3 linked regions of the Homo sapiens genome follow. Changing the gene in region 3 together with the main gene of any one other region gives a genetic interaction. Each region holds a gene or a part of one and is shown on either strand. Other genes may lie near its edges.

Region 1 (3,672 bases), on a different chromosome or scaffold from region 3:
TTGGGAATCATCAGCCTTTAGATAGATTATTTAAAGTTATCTGACCAGATGACATCATCAAGGGAGTAAATGTAGATAGGAAAGACCAGCGAGGTCCAATATTAAGAGATTGGGGAGATGAGGAGGAAAAGAGCAAAGAAATGAAGAGAGAATGGCCATAGAGTTAGCAGGAAATCCAAGCAGGTGTGGGCCTGGAAGTCAAGTGAAGACATGATTTTCAGGAGTTTTCACCATGTCAGATGCTACTGAGAGTGCACTGGACTTTTAGTGATGTCAGAGGAGGAAAACTCTCTTCATAGTGTGTCTTTTGGAACCTCTCAATAACATTACCGGGCTTAATGAACTATGGTCATGGGGCAATTGGTATTTTTATGAAATGAAATGTCTGTTTCTGGAAGACAGATCTGGCAGATATTAAAGCACAGAGAGGTGACTAGCAAATTGAGAAGTCTGCCATTTGATAGTCATTCAGATACATTTATAGTAGAAAGGATGTAAGAATAGATGCATTAATCCTTTCAGCTATTGAGCTTTAACATCCCCTTGGACCTAATCTGTGTCTTTACCCTCTTTTTTCTTGTTGGCAGTATAGGCATAATAATAAACAATGCTGCAGAACACTTGCATGTGCTTTCATTTTAATGTGGTGTGATAATGTCAATAGTTTCTAGAACAGCAGAAGATATTTTGGGACTTTGTATCTAGTAGTGAGTGCTTACACCGTTGAGGAATTTCAGTCTGATTAAAAGGAACGGAAGCATTTCCATCATAAGGTTTTTTTTTTTGTTTTTTTTTTTTTTTAAACTTCTGAGCTGCAGCTGATTATCTCAGGGTAAATTGTTGTAATTTAGTTTGAAATATGACTGTGGAAGACCTTGTGAAATTATTTTAGTCCTACAAATCATGACTTCTTGATGTTGGTTAGGACCTTGAATATTCATGTTATATATTAAAGTCTTAAAGCTGATTTTATTTGCTTATTTTTATCTGTCAGTTAATTGGAGAGACTAATTTTGTAAAATCACTTGGGCATTTAGCTAATTAAATTTATGTGTTTGTGGGTAGATTTGCTATTCATGGATAGTTATTCTAGTATAAATATATTAAAATGGACAATTATTTTCTTAAGACAGTCTGATTATTTTTCTTTAACAACTTTGACCTTTCTACAAAACTTCTAATAGTGTGAAATGTCTGAATTAATGCTTTTCACACTAGGTCAGCTTAAAAAACTTACAGTTCAGCTAGCCTACCCCCTCCTTCATCTTCCTACAGCTTATTTGTAGCCTGGAAAGACTATTTTGGTGATAGCATTAGAAAGGGTCCTGGAAACAAAATACAAAGCATGATAGAGCATATGAAATCTGTTTCTCTTCATTGGGAATACTGCATGGTTCTGATGGTCACACTTGACAATGAAGCTAAAAACAGTCCAGAGAAGAATAGATGAAAATGACAAAGGAGAAAAAGTGGCTTCTCTGACAGTTAGATTAGGTTAGATTAGTTAGATTAAGATTAGGATTCTTAAATAAACAGAAAGCTAATTAGTGATATGAGCCTTCTACATTCTGAAGGATTTGAACAAGATCATTAGAATTCAAAAAACACCAGAAATGAAAGATCTTTCCTGAAGCTGTTTAGGAATATTCATGATATACCCTTAACTGTTCTAGAGAACAAAATGCGTCTGTGCTCCTTCACAAAAGTCCCTATGAATTTGTTTCTCAATGTGATCCTTCTTAAGTTCTATAACTTTTTGTTTTCATTAATTTTAGGAAAATCCTGCCTTGCTTCGTTGGGCCTATGCAAGAACAATAAATGTCTATCCTAATTTCAGACCCACTCCTAAAAACTCACTCATGGGAGCTCTGTGTGGATTTGGGCCCCTCATCTTCATTTATTATATTATCAAAACTGAGAGGGTAAGTATTCAGACCAGATGTTTAGTATTTGAGTGATAGGTTCACTTTCTAGGGACCAGCTGCAGCTCCTTCTCTTGAAGATTGCCACCAGTGCCCCTCCCACCTTGGGGCTGTCCTCTGCCTTCCCTTCCTCTCTTCTTTTATCTTTATTCCTTTCCAGCAGGAGTTAAAACAGAAAGTTTTCAGTCACCTTTGTCTATTTTTGTTAGTTCATTTGTTTTTTAAAAAGATGATGTTTATTGGGTTAAGTATTAGCAGAATACATAAATCATTTAGTACGTTTCCTGTTTGCGTGAATTCTATTTATGTTGGTCACATTTTGCAAATTAATGTTAAAACCTATTAATACTCTACGGACAGAGAAGCACAAGCTGCCTGTGTGGGGAATAGCTGCCGTCAGCAGCCTGGGTATATGATTGGAGAGAAAGTCAAGCTGATCTTTGGCACCAAACCATTCCACATCTGGTACTAAACCCTGAGCTGCAGCCCCCAGGCTTGTGTTGCCACTGGAGCCCACTCGTCTAGCTTTGTCTTTAACTGGCCCATCTGCATTCCCATTAGAGTTCGTGTATTTTGATTATCTGGTGAATGATCTACTTAACAGAAAGGTAGTCCACATTTTCCCAGAAAGTGTTTGCATTTTGCTTTCAATATATGGTTTTATGGGATAATATATTTCTAATGACTAAAATGTGAGTAAGATGTTTTTGAATAGGAGCATTTTCTTACTGTGTCTTTAGTTCCTCGGATTACTGTTTCTTCGCACACTCCCTGGGCTTTAGACAGTGGGATTGCAATTAGGTTTGGAGTGTTTCATTCTGTTTGTCAGTTGTACGGTGGGTTGTGCCAAAATGCAGTTTTTCTTACCTTTTTTATTTATTTATTTTTATCTAATATAGCCAACTGGCAGAATATATTGTCTTTAATGTACTTTTTTTCTGTCTTTACAGGATAGGAAAGAAAAACTTATCCAGGAAGGAAAATTGGATCGAACATTTCACCTCTCATATTAAGTCTGGCAATGATGACTATATGTATTCCTGCCTAAATAAATCATCTATTAATCATTAAGTAGTAGTTTCTCTTTCTTAGTATTACCTTGATTCAATGTTAAAAACTATTAACACCCTAACAACACAGAAGCAGACGCAGCCCGTGTTGGGAATCTGCTGTCAGAGTGACAGCAAACATTTGCTGTACATTGAATGAATGAACATAAACTTCATTAAACTGTGAGCTCTTAGAAAGTACAGATTCTACAATCAGTTGTTCAACAAGCGAGTGTTAACTACGAGCCAGGCATTATGTTATGTGCAGAGAATACAACAGTCAGTAAGACAGAGCCTGTTCTTAAGGAGTACGTACTCTGACAGCTGTTTATTGAACAATTATTTGAGTGCTTACTACCGTCTGGTACTATTTAATACCTAAGCCCTTGTCTGGCCCCAGCTGCAGTGGTAAATACAGCCAAACTAACACCAATGTAAAAAATACAATCGAGATTCAGGAAAATGATGTAGGCAAGCTGATGAGAAGCAGTTCTACCTGAGGAATTTAGGGAGGTGGCATTTGATCTAGGCTCTGAAGTTCACAAGGCTGACAGGACAAAACAGGAGCATGAAGGGGCAAGGTGTGTTGGGTATGGCTGGATTGTGGGCTACTGTGGGGTGAGGAGATGGAGCATGGAGGTCATGCTGAGGAGCAGAAATATAATGGTTAGGGGCGTGACCTTTGGAGGTCAAATCTGGGC
Region 2 (4,213 bases), on a different chromosome or scaffold from region 3:
AGGGCCTTGGGACACAAGGACAAAAACGCTAGTCTCCGCCCTGAAGGGCTCCGTACATAGGCCAGAAGCCGCACCTGCAATGTATGTGGATTTATAAGGAGGTGCCGAGGACGACCCATACCTGGTTTACGGTGAATCCATGGATCTTGTCTCCTAGTTTATACTGCAGAGCCCTCTCACAAGCCCGGTTACTGTTCCATCGCCACGCTCTGTGGTGTGCATGTCTAGATTAAAAGTCATCTAAGTTAGATGAGTTGCAGGAAAAGTATCTGGCTAACATTATTCAGCCACATAGTGAAAATACTCTCATGTAATAAAGATTATTAAAGAAAAATTAAATATTGCATCTTCCAAAGTCTTGCACATTCCAGAAAACTGATTTCTGGTAAGGTCCTTTCCATTTTAATGATCTTTATCTTAACTAAAGCTTCAATGTTGGAAACCTTTTCTTTACACTTGTTCACAAATAACTATAATACAATTACAGTTTAAATTCCCCTTGTTTAAGAGACAACTCTTAAACAAAAGGGCTTCTTTCCTTCACAGAATCCTCAAAAGCCTTCACAGTATACCAAGAAATTCACACTACAGTTAAATCCCATTACATGCCTACCGAATTGCTGAAAACTTAAAAAGCCTAATATTACCGGGAACTCTCATACACTGCTACAGGGAGTACAAAGTGGAATAACTTTGGAAAAGCACTTGGCATTCTTTAGAAAGGCTGAAGAGGCCGGGCGTGGTGGCTTACGTCTGTAATCCCAGCACTTTGGGAGGCCTGGGTGGGCGGATCACCTGAGGTCAGGAGTTCGAGACCAGCCTGGCCAAAAATTAGCCTGATGTGGTGGCAGGTGCCTGTAGTCCCAGATACTTGGGAGGCTGAGGCAGGAGAATCGCTTGAACCCGGGAAGTGGAGGCTGCAGTGGGCCGAGATCACGCCACTGCACTCCAGCCTGGGTGACAGAGCAAGACTGTCGGAAAAAAAAGAAAAAAATGCTGAAGATTGGAAATCCATTCACCTCTTGGTCTCTATCGTCCACACCTTACACTGCGGCCCCAGCACTCACAGACAAAAATGTCAGCACGAACCCTGACAGTCCCAAACTCAACTCACCCGGAGGTGTATCGACAGAGAATGGATAAAGTGCGGACTAATCGTTCAATTAAAAAAAAAAAAAAAAAAAAAAAAAAAAAAAAAAAAACCTTACCAATATAAGGGCCTACAGTGGCATGTAACAAAGATATGGGTCACATAACGTGAAACAAAAGATACACATGATACAGTATTATCCTAAACAGGTATTATTCAAATAGGTAACAAGACATTGTCAGAACGCATAAAAATGGTAAAATATTAAAAAAAAAAAAAGCAAGGACATTTCTGTATGTTATGACCGTGATAATCTAAGAGGGAGGGAGAGAGTTACGAGCAGTTAGGGGAATCTTCAACTTGGTCACAGGGACACTAATTTTCTTTTTTGAGACAGATCTCACTCTGTTGCCCAGGCTGGAGTGCAGCGGTGCAATCTCGACTCACTGCAACCTCCACCTCCCGGGTTCAAGCAATTCTGTCTCAGCCTCCTGAGTGGCTGGGACTACAAGTGCTCACTACTACGCCCAGCTAATTTTTGTATTTTTAGTAGAGACAGTTTCACCATGTCGGCCAGGCTGGTCTTGAACTCCTGACCTCAAGTGGTCTGCCCGCCTTGGCCTCCCAACATGCTGGGATTACAGGTGTGAGCCACCGCGCCCAACCTATTTCTAATAATTATTCTCACCTGAATGAGATGGCTCACACCTGTAACCCCGCAATGCGAGAGGCTGAGGAGGGGGATCAAACCAGCCTGGGAAACAGAGCAAGATCCCTGCTCTTAAAAAACACGTAATTATTATTCTCTCCAATTGTATTATATGTCGTATGGGATTTTCTACATTAATGTATCCCACCGAAATATTTATTTTAAAGATAATATGTACAGGAAGAAAAAACCTATTCAGTCACTGGCAATATTATGAAGATATGCTATAACCAACATTTGCTTACTGATTTAGCAAATTTCAGAATTATGGGACAGAAGCGTTTTAAGAAGTTACTTATCAAGGACATGATAGGAAACTCCTGAGCGGTAAGGCCAGGCCGAACTCATGCCACGGACGCCCCGTGCCTCCCGGCCTGGGCCGGCAGCGCTGAACTATTACCTTATATTAAACACGGGCTCGTGGATTACCATGAACACTAAACTGCTTCGTCATTTTTTTCCCCATAAATTGAGTCATTAAAAAAACAAAACAGTTCAATTCCGGGAGGCGTCAGTTCTCTGAACACAGCGAGACTTTAAGTATGGGCTGTGGGCGCCTCGGGTCTCTTAAGGACTCGGCCTCCCAACAAAAATGAACTAGGAGCAAAGCTGTCAGCGAGAACCGCAAATGCCGACCCCATTTACTACCCCCGTTAAAGCCCACGCTAATGGAGGGCCCCGCCGGGAGCGCCGCGGGCAGGCCCGGCCCCCAGCCCGGGGCATCGCCCCTGGGAGTAGGAAGGAGCTCCGAGGTCCTCCGGCCTCGGAGCCTCGGATGCGGGAGCTCCAGGAAGGGCTCGGGGTGCGGGACGCCCACAGCTTGGGGAGCTGCCAGCCCCGGGCGCAGGGACGAGGACCCCTACGCCTCCGGCCTGCCCTGGACCCTCCCCTCCCGGGTACCAGCGCGCCGAGCGCCTCCCGTCGCAGCGTCTCACCCGCCGCTCAGCCGCCTCAGCACACACAGGCCCTGCCGCCCGCCGCAGCGCCACATTGCGCATGACGAGCACCTGGCTGGCGAGGAACCCCCTCTTAACCCGACGCAGGGCGCGGGGCGGGGCTTGCCGTGACAGCTACCACTCCTATTGGTCAACGCGAACAGCGACGTCCTCTGCGATAGGCTGTAGGTGAAAAGGGTAGGCCTCCACTGCTCTGGGACGGGCGGGAGGGCGGTGCGGACGGAGATGGGCGGGAGGGGCGGGGCCGACGTGCCGAAGGAGGCGGGCAAGGCGAGGGGCGTGGTACGGGTAGAAAGGGGCGGGGCCGTCTTGCCGAAAGGGGCGGGGTTCGGCCAGCAGCAGGATGTGGACAGATGATAGGAGGGGGAAGTGGGCAGGCGAGAAGTGGGGCGTGGCGAGAGGCGTGTGTATGCAGATGAAGTGGGGCCTGGTGAAGGGCGGGGCTGCGCTGGTGAAAAGAGGGGCTCCTGGAATGGCGTGCTGTGTTGGGTGGGGCTGTGCAAGTGATGGGAGGGGCTTAGCGAGGGGTGGCTCTTTGCAGGTGAGGAGTGGAGACCAGTGGGAGAGGGGATTGCAAGTGAGCTGAGCCTTGGGGGCGGGGCTTGCAGGTGACAGGGTGGAGCCTAGTGGGCGGGGATGCAAGTGAGCTGGGCCTTGGGGATGGGGCTTGCAGGCGATGGGGTGGAGCCTGGTGGGGCGGGGCTGCAGGTGAGCTGGGCCTTGGGGGCGGGGCTTGCATGCGAGAGGTGGGTCCTTGTGGGGGCAGGGCTGGCAGAAGTGGGTGGGGCTTGGTGATGGACCGCGGTGTTCAGGTGAGGGTAGTGGCCTGGTTGGGGGCTGCCGGAAGCTGGGCCAGGTGAAACTTGGTAGCCCTCTCTGGCCTTGGTGTGGGCGTTGGTCCTGTTTGTAGGGCTGAGCTGAGCTCCAAAGGCGTTCTGCTGCCCCGCCAGGCCTGAACCTTGGGGTCTGGGGGCTTCTTGGATGAGATCTCAAGGCTGCATGGCAGGTCCCAGGGCCAGGGCCCCACGGTGTCACACGTATCACGGATGGCCGCCAGCGAAGCACAGCACAGCTCCGAGCTGCTGCATGGGAGCCTGTGGCCCCCGCTGCTGCCTCCGCTTTCCTCTTCGTTTCGTGTCTAGGAAGATGCACCTGAGCCCCCTGACATTGCCCAAGTGCCCAAGGGCCCTTCTGGGAACCCCCAGAGAGGCTGAAGGAGGCCCCCGTAGGAGTGGGTGGTTCTGCACTGTGGGCCAGAAGGGGCCCTGGGATTAGCCACGCTTGGAGAGGGTGGGGTAGCCCTTGGAGGAAGTCCGCACCAAGTCTGACCTTCCGGGTTTCTCAGAGCCTCTCTTCCTTCCTCCCTTCACCTTCTCCCTCTTTTTTTCCCCTTGTATCACGAATACAAACAGGCTCAAATCTCCCTCTGTCTCCTAATGGGCTCTGAAAAAAAAAATT
Region 3 (4,226 bases):
GATGTTTAGGGTTGTTATGTCCTACTGATGAACTGACCCCTTTATAATAATAATAATAATAATAATAATAATAATAATAATTCTCTTGGCCAGATGTGGGTGGCTCACATCTGTAATCCCAGCACTTTGGGAGGCTGAGTCAGGAGGATTGCTTAAAGCCAGGAGTTTGAGACTAGCCTGGGCAACAAAGTGAGACTTCAACTCTACACAAAATAAAAAAAGTCGAGTGTGGTCGAGCGTGTGTGGTCCCAGCTACTTGGGAGGCTGAGGCAGGAGGATCCCTTGAGCCCAGGAGTTAGAGGCTGCAGTGAGCTACGATTGCACCATGGCATTCCAGCCTAAGTGACAGACTGAGACCCTGTCTCTGGAAAAGAAACCCGATCCTCTTCATCCTTAGTGATATTCTTTTCCCTGCAATTAATTTTCTTTGGAATTTCCTTGCCCTAAAATCTATTTGTCTACTCAGTTTTCTTTTGTGTGAGCATGGTATGATGGTGTATCTGGTATATCTTTTTGTTATTGTTTTACTGCCACTGGGGTAATCACAGGACTCACCTGGTTTTGTCTCCTGTCTCTCAAGGATTACTGTCCTTTGCCTGAGGTCCAGCGTCGCCAGCCTGGGCGACAGAGCGAGAGCCCGTCTCAGAAAAACCCCCAAGTCCCCCACCTCAGTTCAAAGACCTCTCCTTTTTCCTCCGCTGTCACGGTACAGGAAACAATGTGTAGTTTCCACTACCTGGAAGACTCGACTTGCTCTCCGAGAACCAGTTCCCCGACAGGGTTCCTAGAGCGCAGGCTGCACGGCACAGCCCCAACATTCCCTGCTGCTTGTGAATCTTCGCATCGCCCTCCCAGGGGTCAGGAATGTGTGCTTCGGTGTCTCCAGAGCCTAGCACCACCCCATGACTCAGCTGGCGCTCGGAGGGTCCTTCCATCTGCCGCCGCTGGGGCCTTCGCTACTTCCCCCTCGCTCCTACTGGCTGGCCCACCCGGCTGCCCAGGCTCGGAAGCCCAGGATCCCAGTCACGCGTCTCCCCTTAGTCCCCGCCTCCAGCCACGCCCCCCACACCCCTCCGTCGGCCCCGCCTCCAGCTCCTGCTCGCTCTCCTAGTCCTTCCTCGGCCCCACCTCCAGCCACGCCCCCCACGTGCGCCATCAGCCCCGCCCCCAGCTCTCGCTCGCCCTCCCGAGTCCTCCCTCGGCCCGGTCCCCGCCTCTAGCTCCCCCTTGCCCTCCAGGGTCCTTCTCGGCCCCGCCTCCTGCCGCGCCCCCAACGCTGCTCCGTCGGCCCCCGCCTCCGGTCCCGCCCCCATGCTCCTCCCATTTGGTCCTGTCTTCTGCACTGGCGGAGGTCGCGGCGGGCCTCGGAGAGGAGACGCCGACGTCAGCGCGCCGGGGCGGGGCTGGCGGCAGGAGACGCCGCGTTGAGAGCTTGGGCTCCTCCGTGAGCCGCCGGCGCGCTTCGCTGCCTGGCGGCCTTTCCCCGAGCCGAGCCCGCTTCCCGAGGCCGCCAGTCGTCGCCTGCCCGCGCCTGCGCAGCGTCCCGGGCCGAGAGGGCCACGGCGGCGGCCATGGCGCACCGCTGTTTGCGGCTGTGGGGCCGGGGCGGCTGCTGGCCCCGCGGCCTACAGCAGCTCCTCGTGCCTGGCGGCGTGGGCCCGGGCGAGCAGCCCTGCCTCCGGACGGTGAGTCCTACCTGGGCGCCCGGCGCCCTCCACCCTGCCTCGGGCCCACTTCCGGCTCGGGAGAGCGGACGTCAAGGTCACTGGCCCCCGCCCTCCGGCCGCACGCGGGCCGTCCCTGCCGAGGGCCTGGGCGCCCTGCGCTGTCTCTCAGCCGGCCCCGGGAGCGCCGATTCGCGCTCAGCCCTGCCTGTGGGATTCAAGTTTTGAAAACGCGCAGCTTCAGTAGAGCCGGGTTTTCGCGCTTCACCGGGGCGGTTGAAGCCTCGAAGGTCATGTTGGCTTGGTGGCCGTCCTTGTCCCCGCTTTCGTGTCCCCGGAGCACGGAACGAAGGCGTCTGTAATTTTGAGTCAGCAGCACGAGCACGATGTAGTCGCAAGGACGGGTTTTGGAGTCGGGCTGCCTAACCTCTCCGAGTCTCCGTGTTCCCGTCTGTTGAATGGGGCCATTGCGGGCATTCCAGGACTGGCAGTATTAGCTATTATTATTAAGAATGTCACCTTTTCATAGCAGGGACTCTGTGTTCGTTGCATATCAGGGCCTGCTCTCAGCAGGAGGCTCTTTCTCTGTTGGTAGCCATCCCTCTAGATACACACACGGGACCTGATACGTGTTTCTGACATAATGATAGAGTGTTGACAGAACCATGGCCGTGATCAGTCTCAATGAAAGGTTCACGTGTCGAATAGTCGCTCTCACTGTTTAAGTGACACGGTTCCTCAGCCTTGCACTGGTGTACGGGTGGTGGTTGAGGTCCCCGGGTCGGCCACGGGAACCTGGCTTGGCCTCCTGCTATCCCAGCGCCCTTGTAGTCAGCTCAACGTCTTCACTGTAAGGGGAGATAGGCTAGTGCCGGGGCTCACGCCTGCGATCCCAGCACTTAGGGAGGCCGAGGCGGGAGAATCGCTTGACTCCAGGAGTTGGAAACCAGCTTGGGTAGGGTAGCAGACCCTCCGATCTACGATTTTTATTTTTATTTTTATTTTTTAAGAGACGGGGTTTTGCTTCTTCGCCCAGGCCGGAGTGCAGCGGCGCAAACACAGCTCACTGCAGCCCCAAACTCAAGCGATCCTCCCGCCTCAGCCTCCGGAGTATCTGGGACTACAGCACCGTGGTTGATTTTTAAAAAGTTTCTGGAGAGGCCAGGCGCGGTAGCTCACGGCTGTAATCCCAGCAGGCGGGTGGATCACGAGGTCAGAAAATCGAGATCATCCTGGCTAACACGGTGAAACCCCATCTCTACTAAAAATACAAAAAATTAGCCGGGCGTGGTGGCGGGCGCCTGTAGTCCCAGCTGCTCGGGAGACTGAGGCAGGGGAATGGCGTGAACCTGGGCGGTGGAGCTGGCAGTGAGCCAAGAGCGGGCCACTGCACTCTAGCCTGGGCGACAGAGCGAGACTCCGTCCCAAAAGATAGGGTTCACCATCTTGCCCAGTTGCCCAGGCTGGCCTGGAACTCCAGGACCCAGGCGATCCTCCCGCCTCCTCCTCTCAAAGTGTTGGAATTACAGACCTGAGCCACAGCTCCTGGCCTCTACAAATTGTTTTTTTTTTTTTTTTCTTACCTGGGCTCAGTGACTTATGACTATAGTCCCAGCAACTCGGGGGGCCAAGGCGGGTTGCTTGGCGCGGGAGGTTGAGGCTCCAGTGAGTTTTGATTGCATTGCTGTACTCCAGCGTGGGTGACGGACTCTGTCTCCTAAAAAAAAAAAGAGCGGGGGTGGGGAGGGGGAATAATAGTGCCTGCATTCATGATTTTTACTCCTTGAGGCTCCCTTGCCAGTCTTAAATCAATTTCTTCGCCATGGTCACGCCACGCTGCCGTGTGGTAGGTCCTTTTTCGGTTTCCTGTATCCATTTCCCTGTTTTACCAAGCTCTGATCCCTTTTCTTTTCTTTTCTTTTTTTTTTTTTTTTGAGACAGGGTCTCGCTCTGTCGCCCAGACTGGAGTGCAGTGGTGTGATTTTGGGTCACTGCAACCTTCGCCTCCAGGGTTCAAGCAATTCTCCTGCCTCAGCCTCCCGAGTAGCTGGGATTACAGGCGCCCGCCACTACGCCTGGCTAAATTTTGTATTTTTAGTAGAGATGGTGTTTCACCTTGTTGGCCAGGCTGGTCTCAAACTCCTGGCCTCAAGCAATCCATTTGGCCTCCCAAAGTGCTAGTATTACAGACGTGAGCCACCTTGCCCGGCCTGACTGCTTTTCTTTTGCTGCTCATGAATATTGGATTCAGACATACAGTTCCAGGTGGGGATCTGCATTGTGAGTTTGCAGTTTTATGTCAGAAGTGTTACCCAAAGGCTTTCCTTTTGAGTGACACTATTGTCCCTGTATCACTCAGATGCTGATGTATAAGGAAGTCCTCTGTGCTGACAGCTGTAGCTGATTGATTTGCGGAGGGTGTGGGGGTTCGCGGTCCTGATACATACTCTTTGGTACTCTCTGAAGATTTGCCTAGTGACACCTGGGCATTACTGTGCTGTGAGGGAGTCTGATAGGACAGGTTTTCCTTTATGTTCCTGCTACCCTTAAAGATCAGAGACA

What was found. A genetic interaction does not mean that the proteins touch.
Region 1: changes in AFG3L2 (region 3) and NDUFB4 together harm fitness more than expected from each alone (negative genetic interaction), as found in Homo sapiens cells (one large-scale study listed by BioGRID).
Region 2: changes in AFG3L2 (region 3) and PITRM1 together harm fitness more than expected from each alone (negative genetic interaction), as found in Homo sapiens cells (one large-scale study listed by BioGRID).

Annotation. Positions count from the first base shown.
Region 1 is NC_000003.12:120,599,336-120,603,007, forward strand, and holds the end of NDUFB4 (NADH dehydrogenase [ubiquinone] 1 beta subcomplex subunit 4), read left to right. Parts: intron 1-1,775; coding exon 1,776-1,922; coding exon of another isoform or gene 1,923-1,958; exon of another isoform or gene 1,959-2,872; coding exon 2,873-2,935; 3' UTR 2,936-3,172; downstream 3,173-3,672. UniProt on the Homo sapiens protein: Accessory subunit of the mitochondrial membrane respiratory chain NADH dehydrogenase (Complex I), that is believed not to be involved in catalysis. Complex I functions in the transfer of electrons from NADH to the respiratory chain.
Region 2 is NC_000010.11:3,169,983-3,174,195, forward strand, and holds the start of PITRM1 (presequence protease, mitochondrial isoform 2 precursor), read right to left. Parts: upstream 2,801-4,213; 5' UTR 2,798-2,800; coding exon of another isoform or gene 2,791-2,797; coding exon 2,735-2,790; exon of another isoform or gene 2,232-2,734; coding exon of another isoform or gene 2,200-2,231; intron 225-2,199; coding exon 122-224; intron 1-121. UniProt on the Homo sapiens protein: Metalloendopeptidase of the mitochondrial matrix that functions in peptide cleavage and degradation rather than in protein processing. Has an ATP-independent activity. Specifically cleaves peptides in the range of 5 to 65 residues.
Region 3 is NC_000018.10:12,374,428-12,378,653, reverse strand, and holds the start of AFG3L2 (mitochondrial inner membrane m-AAA protease component AFG3L2), read left to right. Parts: upstream 1-1,426; 5' UTR 1,427-1,571; coding exon 1,572-1,685; intron 1,686-4,226. UniProt on the Homo sapiens protein: Catalytic component of the m-AAA protease, a protease that plays a key role in proteostasis of inner mitochondrial membrane proteins, and which is essential for axonal and neuron development.